2 separate regions of the Homo sapiens genome follow, and region 1 is linked to region 2. The links come from fine-mapping of genetic effects on gene expression. Tissue or cell type: lung. Region 2 holds a variant in brackets; the other region holds the start of a gene. All regions are shown on one strand. Distances are between the middles of the regions.

Region 1 (2,678 bases), 85 kb after region 2:
GATGGGGAGACTGAGGCCCAGGCAGAGATACATGGTCACAGATGGGGAAACTGAGGCCCAGGCAGAGATACACGATCACAGATGGGGAGACTGAGGCCCAGGCAGAGATACACGATCACAGATGGGGAGACTGAGGCCTGAGCCTCCCAGAGATACACGGTCACAGATGGGGAAACTGAGGGCCAGGCAGAGATACACGGTCACAGATGGGGAGACTGAGGCCCAGGCAGAGATACACGGTCACAGATGGGGAAACTGAGGCCCAGGCAGAGATACACGGTCACAGATGGGGAAACTGAGGCCCAGGCAGAGATACACGGTCACAGATGGGGAAACTGAGGCCCAGGCAGAGATACACGATCACAGATGGGGAGACTGAGGCCTGAGCCTCCCAGAGATACACGGTCACAGACGCCATGTGTTGTGGCTTCTGCAGAATCTCGATGCCACAGGGATCAGGAGAGACCACAGAACCAGCCCGAGGACCTGGCTTGGGGCCTGACTCCAGCCGCTAATTGTGGGTGAGGAAACTGCGGCCCGTCCTGGGCCCTCACCGAGGCCAGCAGCTGATGTGGCTCCCAGCAGAGCCGCCTCCGCACACGCGCCCCTCGCCCTGCCCCACGTTGTCTAGGGCGCCCGTCCCTGAGGGCCACGCTGGAAATATTCCCTCCTCCCCGCGTCTCCCGCATGATCGCTGTGGCTTTGCCCACTGCTGTACCCACAGCCCCTGGAAGGGGACCCGGCTGGCAAAGCACGCAGCTTCCGTTGGACAGACACATACTCGGGGCTCACGGCAACCCCGTGTCCACACCCATCCTGCCGGAAGGAAAACTGAGGTCTGGGGAAGGGCAAGGACTTGCCTGAAACTCCTGCCTCCTGCTGGGCTCCCAGAACATTCCAGAAGCCCCAGAAGTATGGGGAGTGGAGCAGGAAAAGGTCCCACCCATCCCCCACGGCTGGCACGCACCGTTCTCCAGGGTGGCCGTCCCACAGGACTTCCTCAGGCCGGTCTCCGGAATCTGGCCCTCCGTCACTCGCCGGCCAAGGGGGGCTGTGGCCAGCCGTGGGGTGGAGTCGCAGCTGAGGGTCCCCATGGTGGGCAGGCGATGGCCCCCACAGCACCCACGGGGCCTGGTGCTACCTTCTGAGCCGCAGCAGCTCTGGCGGCCACAGGCCCAGGCACCGTCCCCACCTTCACGGCCTCACCACACCCTCCCACGACCACAGCCGCACAGACGGCCTCTTGTCCCGCAGCAGGGAGTCGTGGGGCCCTGGCCCAAGGCAGGCTGGTCGGCCGGACACTGGCCTGGAAGTGGGGCCGGGATCGAGTGTCGGCCAGGCGGCTGGATGGTCCAGGAAAGAGTCCGGTGTCAGCAGAGTGCGTCTCCCGGGAGCCGGCAGAGCTGGGCAGCTGGGGCCAGGGCCGGCCCCAGGGAACTAGACCTGCAAACATGACACCCACAGCCTTGCAGCAGGAGGGCCTGGCGGGGTCGTGGGTGGCGTGGCCCCGTTTCTACACCTGGGGAAACTGAGGCACAGCCCAAGGTCATACAGCAAGTACACAACTCTGGGAGTTTCAGCTCTGAGCCAAGAAGCATTCACTGCCTCATCCTGTCACTCATTCCTGCCAAAGCATGTACTGGGCACCTACTGTGTACCAGCCTCTGTTGGGGGTGGTGAGAACTGGACACGAACAGACGGAAAAGAAGGAGATGTTCTCAGGATGGGAGAGAGAAAGTCGTCAGTAAATGTGATAAGTGAACACAGTCTGGTGTATGAGGAGGCACTGAACGTGAGGGAAAACGCAGACAGGTTTGGGGCCCAGGGTAGCAGTGTGGGTGTGGGTGAGCCCCACGGAGAAGGTAAAACTGAACAGTCCCAAAGCAGGTGAGGAGGCAGCCGTGCAGAGGCCCTGGGGCAGCGGCGAGGACAGCGGGGAGGTGAGAGCCGTCCTCACTGCCTCCCAGATGCCTCCGAGATTTAAACCACAATGGATTTTGATACATTCAAGGCGACCACTGCGTGAGGCTCCAAGAAGAGGCTCAGAAAACTGCCAGATGAGATGCACGTTCCTGTCTCTTCCTTGTTTGTTTCTGTATTTTTTGGAGCCTTTTGCAGTGTAATTTTTTTTTTTTTTTGAGACAGAGTCTCACTCTGTCACCCAGCCTGGAGTGCGCTGGTGCGATCTCGGCTCACTGCAACCTCTGCCTCCCGGGTTTATGCGATTATCCTGCCTCAGCCTCCTGAGTAGCTGAGATTACAGGCACCCGCCACCACGCCTGACTAATTTTTATATTTTTTAGTAGAGATGGGGTTTCACCACGCCTGGCTAATTTTTTTTTTTTTTTTTTTTTTTTTTTTTTGAGACAGAGTCTTGCTCCCCCGCCCAGGCTGGAATGCAGTGGCGCGATCTCGGCTCACTGGAACCTCCGCCTCCAGGGTTCAAGAAATTCTCCTGCCTCAGCCTCTCGAGTAGCTGGGATTACAGGCATGCACCACCACGTCTAGCTAATTTTTTTGTATTTTTAGTAGCTAATTACAGGCACACTCCACCATGTCCAGCTAATTTTTTTGTATTTTTAGTAGAGACGGGGTTTCACCACGTTGGCCAGGATGGCCTCAATCTCTTGACCTTGTGATCCAACCGCCTCAGCCTCCCAAAGTGCCAGGATTACAGG
Region 2 (2,678 bases):
CCCCCAGTCATCTGTCTTGTGGAGTGTGTCGCTATGAAGAGGTCCCTGAGGCTGGGTCGTTCATAACGAAGAGGGTTCATTTGCTCACGGTTCTGCGGGCCGTACAGGAAATGTGACACCGGCCTCTGGGCCGCTTCTGGGGAGGCCGGGGAGGTTTACCCATCAAGGAAGGTGAAGAGGGAGCTGGTGTGTCACGGGTGAGAGGGAGCAAGAGGGAAGGTGCCGCACTCCTAAATGGCTCTCAGGTGAGCAACAGGCAGGACGGGGGACGGTGCCGCACTCCTAAATGGCTCTCAGGTGAGCAACAGGCAGGACGGGGGATGGTGCCGCACTCCTAAACAGCTCTCAGGTGAGCGAGAGTTAGCAAGGGGGAAGGTGCCGCAATCGTAAACAGCTCTCAGGTGAGCAAGAACTCAACTCACGTGTCACCAAGGGCATGGGCTAAGCCCTGCAGGCGGGATCTACCCCGTGAGCCAGCACCTCCCACCAGGCCTCACACCAACTCTGGGCGTCACATTTCCGCATGAGATTTGGAGGGACACATGTGTCCAAACATGTCACAGAGCACGTAGTCAGTGACGTTCACACATGAATATTCATCCCAGATTTACTCATGGTAATGAAACCCTCAACACGACAGCAGAGTTTGGGTGTGTTCCTAAGAGCGGGTGGTTTGCAGATGTTCACCTCATCCAAAAACATCCTCACAGACCTGCCCAGAATGATGTTTGACCAAACTTCTGGGGATCCTGCGGCCCAGTCGAGTTCACACAAAAAATTCACCAACACACTCGGCATTCCGGGGAAGCTGGGGACGCGTGAGGGGCCACCAGGTGGCTGCAGAGACAGTGTCTGAGCTGTGAGGTCTATTTTCAGCCCAAAGAGTCGGCTTCTGGGGAACAGCCCAAGATGCCCTTGGAGGAGAGGCTGGGACGAGTCCCCCAGTCCCTCTGCAGCCCCAACCCCCAACCCAGCCCTTGACAAGCCCCTCCCCTCCAGACACAGGGCAATGCCCCTCTCCGTCTCTCTGTCTCTCTCTCTCTCCCCTCCCTCTTTCTCTGTCCTCCGTGTGTCTGCCTGTCCTCTGAGTCCACCACTGGCCTCTTGCACGTGCCCTGCCCGTGGCTCCTGCCCTCACGTCTCTGCTCGCTCCCGTATCCCCCATGAGCTGGTTCTGGGAGGCCGCGGTCTGGCTTGTGGGGACCCATCCATTTCTCTCCTGGGGCCTGAGCTGGGGTTGGGGTTCTAGAGCAGCGCAGGCCAAGACCCCACGGTAATGGGAGACAGAGGTGGGTAGAGCGTGGCCTCCAAGACATGATTCTGAACAATGCAGACCCATGGCTGTAACAGATGCAGCCCATGTAGCCTGAGAGTAGGGTCACTGTACAACTACAGATGCCATCAACAAAACT[C/G]CGTGTAGCAACATCCTCCCACTCAGTCCTCGAGCAGCCCTGAAGGCACAGCCACCATTGCTCCCTGTCACAGATGGGAACACCAAGACAGCCACCATTGCTCCCTGTCACAGATGGGAACACTGAGGCGAGTCCTCGAGCAGCCCTGAAGGTGCAGCCACCATTGCTCCCTGTCACAGATGGGAACGCGGAGGTGCAGGGACATCGGTGGCTCCCCAGGGCCCGGCTGTGAGCAGCTCTGATGTGGCAGCCCCTTCTCCCCAGCATTGGGGTGCGGTCAAGCCCGCGGACTGGGCAACCGGGCTCTGCTTCCTCCGCGCTTGCCAAGAGCCTCAGAAGGAGGCCGTTCCTCATCTGTGCACACGAGGGCTGGACACAGACACACAGCACACTGCGCCCACGCCATGGCCAGCCTGAGGCAGACATCAGCAGCCGAATGCTGAGGGCCACACTGTTTCCCTCTGAGCCCTGGCAAGGCCTCAGAACCCTTCTCAACCCTTAGCCAAGGCCAAGTGGTCTGAGAGGCCCAGGAGCTTCACTCTGTGGTCCTCAGGGTGCCATTAACCCGACCCCAGGGCCAGCGGCACCTCCAGGCCTGGCCCCCCGGCCCCCGCCCCGGCCCCCGCCCTGGCTGGCTCCCAGCCCACGCTGCTCCACTGCAGGCCCGGCCAGCAGCATCTGTTGCCATGGTACCTGCTGGGGTAGCAAGGCCCCCCCACCCACAGTGGGACATCACCACAGCAGCCGGTGAGATTTAAATGCAGGCAGCGGATTAGATCTGAGCGTTGTGTGGATGTGGAATTTCCCGATGTTGACAACAGCCCCAGGGTTATAAAAGAGAATCCTGGTTTTTAGAAAAGATACGCTGATATGTTTAGGAGGAAGTGGGCATTGCACCTCCAGCATAGTCTTCAATGGTTCTGAAAATGTGTATAAATATGAATATTGTACCATATGTAGATAACAGGTGGCTGTAGATACAGATAGAGGTACAGACACCGAAGATGACACAGCAAATGGGGAAAATCCAGCCCGCTGGTGACTCTGGGTAGAGTCAGGGGGAGTTCCTGCTGTATGACAAGTAATCTTGCCACTTTCCTGTAAGGTCAAAATGATATCAAAACTAAAAGATGTGAAAACAATATTCAAAGCATAGAGTCTTGGGCCAGCCCCCCACCTTACCTCCTACAGAGACCCCAACTCTGCAGGTCTAGATGAGCTCAGACTTTGATTTAATCAGCATCAAGGAGAGTATGATGGGTTGAG

The links. PIP is the estimated chance that this variant, and not a neighbour inherited with it, causes the effect.
Region 1: CIMAP1D starts here. The variant in region 2 is fine-mapped to the expression of CIMAP1D in lung (GTEx, PIP above 0.99).

The regions. Positions count from the first base shown.
Region 1 is chr19:473,654-476,331 of GRCh38, forward strand. It overlaps CIMAP1D (CIMAP1 family member D), which reads right to left and starts at 1,330. Exons shown (of 4, transcript NM_182577.3): 1 at 968-1,330. The coding sequence starts at 1,094.
Region 2 is chr19:388,929-391,606 of GRCh38, forward strand. No RefSeq gene overlaps it. Among named protein-coding and RNA genes, the nearest start is that of SPMAP2, 14 kb to the left of the region's middle. RefSeq lists enhancers at 1-519, 520-1,084. The variant C/G (reference allele first, on the strand shown) is at 1,413.